2 separate regions of the Homo sapiens genome follow, and region 1 is linked to region 2. Evidence: fine-mapped expression QTL. A gene starts in region 2. The other region holds a variant in brackets. All regions are shown on one strand. Distances are between the middles of the regions. Region 1 overlaps SLC30A6 (solute carrier family 30 member 6). Region 2 holds the start of NLRC4 (NLR family CARD domain containing 4).

What was found. PIP is the estimated chance that this variant, and not a neighbour inherited with it, causes the effect. A credible set is the group of variants that fine-mapping cannot tell apart.
Region 1: its variant is the best candidate, but not a certain one, in a credible set for the expression of NLRC4 in cerebral cortex (GTEx, PIP 0.85).

The regions. Positions count from the first base shown.
Region 1 is chr2:32,223,997-32,229,354 of GRCh38, forward strand. It overlaps SLC30A6 (solute carrier family 30 member 6), which reads left to right. Exons shown (of 14, transcript NM_017964.5): 14 at 1-383. NLRC4 (NLR family CARD domain containing 4) reads right to left here. Exons shown (of 9, transcript NM_001199138.2): 9 at 457-769. The coding sequence ends at 477. Among named protein-coding and RNA genes, the nearest start is that of NLRC4, 38 kb to the right of the region's middle. The variant A/G (reference allele first, on the strand shown) is at 2,381.
Region 2 is chr2:32,262,657-32,268,037 of GRCh38, forward strand. NLRC4 (NLR family CARD domain containing 4) reads right to left here and starts at 2,230. Exons shown (of 9, transcript NM_001199138.2): 1 at 2,082-2,230.

The DNA.
Region 1 (5,358 bases), 39 kb before region 2:
TCTTTTTTGGGAGTCTGATCTCCTTCTAATATCAGAAAGTGCTTTTTATATTCCAGATTGCTTGAATTAAACTGTTTGGATTAAAGAACATATATGGAGTTTCCTCTCTGGTTTTAAATAATCTTTCTTTATTCAGTAGCTATTAATAATTTATCTCATATTCAGCGAATATTTATTGAGAATATTGTTGAGAATCTCTTACATGCCAGGCACTATACTAAGTTAATATGCATTCAGTATACCAGTTGGTGTGACCCAGACCAAAGGTAACACAAAGATGAATGAGAATTCCTTCAAGGCGCCGATAATCCTAGTAGGAGAGCTAAGACACAAAACTGTTGCATGTTTTTAATCATCAAATTAAACTTCTTTCCACGTCCTTATCTTCTTTGGCATCCTTTTGCAAGATTTTTTTTAACTACCAGGCTTAAAATAATGAGGTCCCAGAGCACTTACTGGCTTCGAGTACACTTTATTTAAGCAGTTACTAGTTTAAAAGCACCTGTAATAACACTGAGATCATCATCATCAAATTGCCACCCAACAAGCCTAGCTTCTTGCAGAAAAGTTAACTTGGATAACACTTGGCTAAGTTTTCTGACTAATGCTGGATCAGGTAGAAATTCTTTAGTACTAAAGTCAAAAAACACTAATTGCTTAAGATTCTCAAATACACCCATGAAGGCAAGCCATCCATCACTGCTCACACGATTTCCCGCCAAATTCAACTGCTGGAAGTTTTTCAGAGGGTTCTTTCCAAAAAATGCACCTGGGTAAAGAAATAAGTATATTAGTTGGAAGAAAAATTTTTTTTAAAAAAAAAGAGAAATAGGTTCTACATTTATTTTACATACTTTTTTTTCACTCTGAAATGGCCATGTTTGAACCAGTGCTTTGCCTCAGAAAGAAATTATTAATATAATTCTCTATAGCTAGGGCAGTGATTGTGAATATGGTCTATTATATTTTCCTAGAGTATAAGGGAATCTGATAAATAGTGATTCGTAGTGAGGTAGCAACAATATGTAAATGAATTACTTTTTTTTCCCCTTTTCCTTACTCCTAGGAAATGGAAGGTTGCTTTAATTAAATATTCAGTACTTGTTTTCAAAACTGGAGTCAATCTTTGGCAATATTAAGTCGTTTCCTCTTCTGAAAAAGTAAACACCACCTAACTGTTGTTTCTATGGGTATGTTCCTAACTGTAAACTTGAGTAAGTGAGCCTCCTTCAGTATCTAAAGATTTGGGTGTTTTTGTTTACCTGTTTATGTATAACCCTCCCGAGCCTCTTCAGGAAGTTCCTCCATTCCTTACAGAATAGGGCACCTAAAGTATTTCCTACATAGGGTAGGTGGATATCCTGTCTTTCTGATACACAAAGAATGCACACACACACACATACATACAAAGGATGTGTGTGTGTGTGTGTGTGTGTGTGTGTGTGTGTGTATACATACACAAATAGTTTAGTGTTCATTCTTTATCCCATGTTACCAGTTTAGGTGGTACTGGAACCCAAGTGAGTCTTGCAATAAGAAAAAATACCTTTCTTTCAGGTTATTTACCATCATACAGATTGGCCAGTATACAACATTAGGATTTCACAAAACTAGCTCTGTGTTAATTACACATATTAAATTGTGCAAAGCGTTAGCCCTACCCACCTACCTGGCCCTTTCTGGATGACTAAGTTCACCTTGAAGTACAGAGTGGACAGACAGGCAGACTGGACATGGGAACTCTTACTTACATGTTTATACTCCAGAGTATCACACACAAAATGCAGAAGATGTATGCCTGGTTTATCAATCCACATTACTCGGCTCATCCGAGCTCATCTTAGTCTTAGTGTACCTCACCCAACTTTGGAGGGTTAATTTGTTGTATATTAAACTTGTGTTTCTTGGGAGATGTGTAATATTAGATAATGTTCCAGAAACTGACCCTTATGGAAATGAAGGTCCATGATTCAGTTTGGATTCCAAGTAGGAAAAGAGGTTTTAAAAGTTCCTTTCCATTGTCTCAGTGAGAAGACCACTAAAGAGTTCAAGTTAAAGAAGGAAAGATTCGGTGCTGTACAACCTTAAGGTTAGCAAGCAAAGACTAAAAGGTATCTGCTACCAGTAATGAGGGCTTAATGACAGAAATGGACAGTCTTGTCCGACCAGCTTACGTGGGTGAGGTCAACCTAGTTATGCACTGAAACTATACCCTTACCCACTTTCAGTAAAGGTGTTTACCAGCTCCGTAGTGAGAGGAGATCTGTGAATTTGGTGTCTGATGTCACTGCATGGCCTTGTGTAGTTTGTTCAGTGCAACTAAGTACATTCTAGAGTGTGTCCTTAGTCAATGTCAGCCAATGCTTTTATCACCATCATA[A/G]GGTCTTGAGTTTCGAAAGGTCTTCAGGTTCTTCTTTACAGACACCTAAAGTGATTGGCCCTGCCTGACCGTGGTCAAGATGCTAGCGGCTAAAGTGGGCAAAGCCAGGTAAGGAGATGATTCACAGGGTTCTGCCTTCATGTCTCTTACCCATGGTCAGTGTCACTGACACCATCTTTGGGCCTTCTTTGCCACTTTTATTAATTTGAAAAGTGAGACAGAGGCCGGGTGCGGTGGCTCATGCCTATAATCCCAGCACTTTGGGAGGCCAAGGCGGGCAGATCACCTGAGGTCAGGAGTTTGAGACCAGCCTGACCAACATGGAGAAACCCCGTCTCTAGTAAAAATACAGAATTAGCCAGGCGTGGTGGTGCATGCCTGTAATCCCAGCTATTCGGGAGGCTGAGGCAGGAGGATCACTTGAACCCAGGAGGCAGAGGTTGCGGTGAGCAGAGATCACACCATTGCACTCCAGCCTGGGTAACGAGTGAAACTCCATTTCAAAAAAAAAAAGAGAAGAAAAGTGAGACAGACTGCTAGTTGTTCCCAAAACTGTCTCTCCTTATTCCATAGTTAATAGAGTTTTATTTCGGCATATGGCCACTCATATCCCAACCTCCCTTGCTATTAGGTGTGGCTAAATTTTTGCCAAGGAAGTATAGGCAGAAGTGATGTGTGCAACTTCCATGTCACTTTTCCGCTTTTCCCCTCTTCTACTAGGTTGAAATGATCACAGGGCAGTGACCTAGCTATGGCCATAAAGTCAAAAATAACACTCTTAAGGAATAGAGGAGTAAAAAAAAAAAGTAGGGGTCTGGGCCTGAAAGACTGCACAGAGGAAAACCACCCCACCTGCCTGGACTGCTCATTTCTGGACTGTTACATGATAGAGAATCAAGTTCTGCCTTCTGTAAGCCATGGTATAGTTGGGTCTCTGTTATCACAGCGTAGCCTATGCCCAGCCCAAATAGTACCTAGGTCCTTACTTTCCCCTGCCTTCCACCTCCTCTGTTCCTTGGAGGATGGCTTTCTCCCTGCTCTCTCTTCCATCTCATGTTCATGTCCTTTCTGCCTTTGCCCCTTCTCCATATGCTTCCCAGCATGGCATGCACTCAGTCCAAATGCTGGTTGCCAGTTGTGTGTCTATTTAAGGCTCTTTCCCCAAAGATCAACTTTTTTTCTCCTTCTCAGCTAGCAGAACATATTTTCACCACCTAAAAGGAATTTAAGAAGAATTTAAAGCCCATTCCACCCTCACAGGGTGAGCAATTTATAGTGGTTATCTACTAAGGTATAAGGATCTTATCATCAATTTAAGAGAGTTTCTTAGATAATTATTGGAATGTGTGCTAGTGCAGGAACCAAGAACAAACAACATTTGTCATAAGCCAAGGGCATGCCTTTTGTTCATTTAATCTGCAGTGCTTATGTTATGAGGAGCAGACTAGATCCAAGAGAAACAGAATCCATGACATTTAGAGCCATAGGCTGTATGTGGGCTGTGGAGAGTGCAAATGGCTTGATTGGAATTCCAGGAAAAATCTCAGATGCCCTGGGTAGAAGGGTTCTGATTCTTGGGGGTTCCTGTATCCCAAACACAACTCTTCATTTGTGTTGTCCTGTAGTTCACCTGAACGAGTACCAGAGTTCTCACTGTTTATTCATTCAGCAACATCTTTAGTGCTACTATGTGCTGCGGATTATGCTGGGTGCTGGGGATATGTGTAAACGACAGACATGGTCCCTGTCTAAATGGGCTTACAAAATAGTGTGAAGACATGCATTATAAAGTAATTAGATGGGTGGTGGGTGCTATGGTAGGTCAGGGTACCCTGGGAGCACACAAAAGCAATAGGCTTTCCCACTCCACTTTGTTCCCAGAACACTTGCAATTGGGCTTATATGCTCCAGGAGGAAGACTGGAGGATTCTTAGGAGAAATGGAACTGCCCCCCGGGAAAAGGCCCTACAAAGAAGGGGCCATTTTGCTTGCCCAATCACCCCCTAGTGGAGTTAGCCTGTCAAAAATTCACCGCCTCCCTTAGACACACAGAACTCCCTATCAACTTGTGTCTCCCTCTAAAATGTGAAGAGGACAGTGCAGGATTATCAGACATTTGACAACAGCCTCCCACAAGGAAGACTGAGACTAAAAGCCAAAACAACTCCCAAAGAAATCAGGCACTGTAGAAAACAAGAAAAATCAAACTCCAAAGACCTAAGTTTTTCAGAGATCCTAAGTTTTTCAGTAGACTGCATCTACTCAGCAACAATAAGATGCTAAGAAAGAGCTTTTGGAAAATAAAATATGATAGCGGGATCTATACAGCAGAATGATTGGGCCCAGGATTTAACACAGAGCTTCTAGAACATGAATAGGGTCTGCGATGGCTTTTTTTTTTTCTTTTTTTGAGACAGGTTCTGGCTCTGTTGCCCAGGAGTGCAGTGGTGCAATCTCAGCTCACTGCAATCTGCCCCACTGGCTCAAGTAAGTGATCCTGCCAACTCAGCTTCCCGTATAGCTGGGATTATAAGTATGTGCACTACGCCCAGCTAATTTTTGTATTTTTAGTAGAGACAGGGTTTCACCATGTTGGCCAGGCTGGTTTTGAACTCCTGACCTCAAGTGATACACCCACCTTGGCCTCACGAAGTGCTGGGATTACAGGCATGAGCTCTCTTTGAGAACAGGCTGGATAGCAGAGTTCAGCTTCAAACATCCAAGTTGAAAGATACCATTTAACAAAGGGTTTTGTTAGAGCAGGTGAAATTGGTCAGGCATGGTGGCTCATGCCTGTAAGCCCAGCACTTTGGGAGGCTGAAGCAGGCAGATCACTTGAGGTCGGGAGTTTGAGACCAGCCTGGCCAACATGATGAAACCTCGTCTCTACTAAAAATACAAAAATTAGCTGGGCATAGTGCACACACTTATAATGGCACATACTTATAGTGGCGGCATGGACCGGTAATCCCAGCTAC
Region 2 (5,381 bases):
TCCCAGCTACTTGGGAAGCTGGGACAGGAGAGTTTCTTGAACCCAGGAGGTGGAGGTTTCAGTGAGCCAAGATAGCACCATTGCACTCCAGCCTGGGTGACAGAGAGAGACTCTGTCTCAGACAAAAAAAAAAAAGAATAGGACTGAGACCAGTGTACTCTCTTGGAATGTAGCTATGGCCCTGCAACCCCTCCCCGCAAGCTGTCCAGTGAATAACTGAATTGGGTGGAAGAAGTCCTTCCCCCACATTTGTACATTGGAAAATAATATAATAATATATATTATATATATATAGGCAATCTGCCTGCCTCGGCCTCCCAAAGTGCTGGGATTACAGGCATAAGCCACCATGCCCAGCTGGAAAATAATATTTAGTACTAATTCTAAAATTGGCATTTTCTTAAAAAAGGTTACATGAGCTCCTCAGAGAACTGAAGTTTCTCTGGACCCATATAACCCACGTCTATGGGGTCATTCCCACACCTCACAGATAAAATAAGGGAAAGAGTACATATAATTAGGAGCAGACAGGAAGCACACAGAAATGGAAAATGTGTGTGGGCTTTGGCATTGCAGATCTGAATTCAAATCCTCACTCTGCACCTTATGAGGTAAGTATCCCTAGACATGTTACTTAGCCTTTCCGAATCTTGCTTTCCAAATCATGCATAATATTCACCTCCCTGGACTATTGTGAAGATTAAACATGAAAGTAGTTGTGACAAAGATGGTCAGTGGGTATTATCTGTCTTCCTTTCTAGTAAAAAGGCTCTAGACTAGAATGTTCTTAGGTCTTTAATAGGCTTCAGCAATCTCACATGTTAATATTAGTGTTATGTGCTGAACTGGGCTTCCCCCAAATCCATATGTTGAAGCCCTGAACCTCAGAATGTGACTGTATTTGCAGACAGAGCCTTTAAAGAGGTCATTAAGCTCAAATGAGGCTGTTATGAGAAGAGGAAATCGGGACACACAAAGGGAGATACCAGGAATGTGCATACAGAGAGAAAAGGCCAAGGAGGGAGGCGTGGGGAGAAGCCAACCCTGCTGACACCTTGGTCTTGGACTTGCAGCCTCCAGAACTGTGGGAATATAAATTTCTGTTGTTTAAGCCACCCAGTCTATGGTATTTTAAACACATTAATACGACTAATATTATAAAAGTGTGTGAACAGTTAAGAAGTGTGCTGACCAGGTTCTATCCTAGTTTTGTAGACAATTAGCAGTGTGATGTAGGGCAGGACATTTAACTCCTCTCTACCACATTTTCCACCTCTCAAAGCCAGGCTGCAAGGATCTACTGAGATAATGTACATAAAGACCCTATCACGAAATAGGTGTCCCGTAAAGGGTGATTTCCTTCACTTCTGTCTCCAAATATCAGGTTTCTCATCAGTAACTTGGGAGATTGGATGGACTAAGTAGTCCACCTCGTTCCTTTCAGCTTTGATCATCTGTGATTCTAACAACAGTCTTAGCAACAAGAGTGAGTTTCCTGGCCGGGCACGTTGGCTCACACCTGTAATCCCAGCACTTTGGGAGGCTGAGGTGGGCAGATCACGAGGTCAGGAGTTGAGACCAGTCTGGCCAACATGGTGAAACCCTGTCTCTACTAAAAATACAAAAATTAGCTGGGGCGCGGTGCCGGGTGCCTGTAATCCCAGCTACTTGGGAGGCTGAGGCAGGAGAATTGCTTGAACCCAGGAGGCAGAGGTTGCAGTGAGCCGAGATCACGCCACTGCAGTCCAGCCTGGGTGACAGAGCAAGACTCTGTCTCAAAAAAAAAAAAAAAAAAAGAGTGAGTTTCCTTTCTGTAATGCCAAAAAGTGTTTCCAAAGTCCTTTCCATCTCACAGTAGTCCAAGGGGTACATGTACCCCTTGAACCTGATGAAGCCCCAGCAGACCCGATTAACCACCCCTAAAGGTTTCTCGGCAGGCAAATCCAGCCAGGCATGCAAATCACACTCGTCAATGTTAAGGCTTTTGTACATCCCAGACACAAGCTTTAAATGAATGTAAACCCAGATTTTAATATTTGGGCCCCAGACCTTAAAAATCCCATTCTCTCTACCCACAGTACCTGGCTGAGCAATCCAATTGCCCTCTTCTTGGGAGACCAAGACATGTTTTTAAAATAAAGTTTCTTTGTATTTGCTTTCCGTTTCAGTGAGGCCTCGAGTTCTTGTAGACCAGATACCTTCTTGTTCTGTGAGAGGACAGTGTACAGAGAGGGGAACTGCTGAGCAGTTCCTTTTTTTTTTTTCAAAGCACAGTAAGAGTGGTTTGGACACAAGTACTACCAGTTCAGAAAGGGAAGATGGGTGTAGGCAGGAGTAGCCGGGGAAGAAGTAGAACTTCAGAGTAAAAGATGCAAGAGCTAGAAATTCCGTCAAGAAAGGAATTACTCATTTGTTTCCTGTTTGTTCACAACATATGAATTCATTGCTGTTGAGTTACTTATTCTATACCTTAAAATGAAACAAAGTCTTCTGAACATCCAACATATATTTTTTTTCTTTTTCTTTCTTTTTTCTTTTTTTTGAGACAGAGTCTTGTTCTGTCACCCAAGCTGGAGGGCAGTGGCACAATCTCAGCTCACTGCAACCTCTGCCTCCCGGGTTCAAGCGTTCCTCCCGCCTCAGTCCTCCCAGTAGCTAAGACTACAGGCGTGCACCACCATGCCCGGCTAATTTTTGTATTTTTAGTAGAGACAGAATTTCACCATGTTGGCCAGGCTGGTCTCGAACTCCTGACCTCAGGCAATCTGCCAGCCTCAGCCTCCCAAAGTGCTGGGATTACAGGCGTGAGCCACCATGCCCAGCCACAACATGTATTTTTAATGCTTAACCATGGGAGATAGAGCGGTAAATGAAATGAGCCAGCTTAGTTGGCTAAAGCACATTGCTACTGCATTCAAGGTCATGCTTACCCCTGTACCTTGAATCCCAGAGGACTTCCAGCAGATGTGTTCTCTCAGTCAGCAGGGTTCTGGGCAAGGTCACACAGGGCAAACAGATCACCAGTTTTGGTCCACTCCACCGATGACGCACGGGGACACCCTCCGGAGTATAAACAGCCAGGGGCTTGCACAGGCACACTCACATTGGACGTTTGTGTTCACAGACTCCAGGAGGCCAGCTTATACTCAGCTGAGGACTGAAGAAATCTCTCTGCACTTCCCTTGAGGATGACATTCTTGCATACTCTTTCCTCTGTCTTTGCATAAACTACCAGGAACATGTCTTTGTGTTACATAACTTCTTATTTCAAAAAGAGCATTCTGACAGTAGCCTATCTGCCATAGAGGGATACCAAAGTTTCCCGGCAAATAAATGTCTACATCCTGGGTTTTCTAAGGGGGCATCAGTGTCAGTGTTTCCCAACTTGTGAGGTGGGTTTCTCTGAAGTGAGATTGAGGGCTACACTATCAGCTAGATTTTTAAATTGTAATGAAACCTATATATAAACATATGTTCAAGAGAAAAAACTGCAAAGACAGCCACCAAAATAGTAATGATGCTTATTGCTGGGGAATACAATTATAAGCAATTTTAAATTTCTGTCTTTGGCTTATCTGTATATTCTAATTTTATTTATCAACTTATTTATTTTTTATTTTATTTGTTTATTTATTTATTTATTTATTTATTTGAGACAGAGTCTCGTTCTGTTGCCCAGGCTGGAGTGGAGTGCAGTGGCTCAATCTTGGCTCACTGCAACCTCTGCCTCCCAGGCTCAAGCAATTCTTGTGCCTCAGCCTCTCAAGTAGCTGGGATTTCAGGTGTGGGCCACCACCATGGCTAATTTTTTGTATTTTTAGTAGAGACAGGGTTTTGCTATGTTGGCCAAGCTGGTCTTGAGCTCTTGGTCTCCAGTGATCCACCTGTGTTGTCCTCCTAAAGTAATGGGATTACAGGCGGGAGCCACCATGCCCAACCTGTATATTCTAATTCTTCATAGCAAACACCTATTACTTTTGTACTAATAAATGATGTAATATAGAATAAAAAGGGAAAATGTAGAAATATGGTTGTAGTAGGCTGAATAGTGGCTACCCAAATATCCCAAATCCTAATCCCTGGGAACTGTAAATATTGTGTCTTTCCAGATATGTTCCATTTAAGGCTCTGAAGATGGGGAGAGAATTCTGGATGATCCAGGTGGGCCCTTAATAATGGTCCCTTATTACAGAGAGCCAGAGGGAGATTTGAAACTGACAGGAGAAGTCAGTAAGACCATGAATGCAGAGATTCGAGTAATACGGCTACGAGCCAAAAGATGCCAGCAGCCACCTGCAGCTGGAAGAGGCATAAATGGATTCTCCCCTAAAGCTCCCAGGAGTGTGGCCCTGCTGACACCCTGATTTCAGCCCCATGATACTGATGTTGGACTGGTCCTCAGAACTGTGAAAGAATAAATTTCTGTTGTTTTAAACCACCCAGTTTATGATATTTTGTTACAGCAACCACAGTAGACTAATACAGTAGTATTTCATAGTAAAATAAGCAAAATTATATCCATATTCATTCAAGTACATCTTCTGGGCTGCCTCACCAGTTTCCTTTGTGAGTGGATTTGCAGTCAGGTGTTTTCAGGGCATTTCAAATAGGTAATTAACTAGTAACTTCGGCATCCTACGTTCCAACAGTTACGTCCCCTGCCCTTATGTTCTTCCTCCCAGTCTCTCCCAACGCTTATTATCCTAGGAGTGTGGTAAAGTGGAAATGCCCAGAGCTCTGGAGCCAAGTAGACCTGAGTTCAAGTCTGGGTTCCTTCCTGTGACTAATACAAGTCACCTTAGCTTCTTAGCAGTGCAATGATGGTTCCCCAAGTTGCCCCAGGGTTGTTGTGAATATCAGCTGAGATGCCATCTGTGAAGTACCACATGGCACTAACTATTCTGTGACTTTAAGCATATGTAGCTACTCATGCTTTTAACTCCCAGTTTAATGCGGAGGGAAGGAAAAAGTCACGATACTTTTCTTCCTAGAGGCCTGTAACTCATAACTCCAAAAATAATTATTCTGGAATTCTGTTAGTCTTCTGCTTACATATTTAGTGGCAGGGAAGTCACTGGGCCAAATCAGGCAGGCAGCTTCCTAATATGCCTTAATAAAGAGGGGTCAATTTTTTTTTTTTTTTTTTTTTGAGACGGATTCTCACTTTGTCACCCAGGCTGGAGAGCAGTGGCTGCAATCTCAGCTCACTGCAACCTCCACCTCCTGGGTTCAAGCGATTCTCCTGCCTCAGTCTCCCAAGTAGCTGGGATTACAGGTGCGCACCACTATGCACGGGCTTTTTTTTTTTTTTTTTTTGACACAGTTTCACTCTTGTCGCCCAGGCTGGAGTGCAATGGCGTGATCTTGGCTCACTGCAGCCG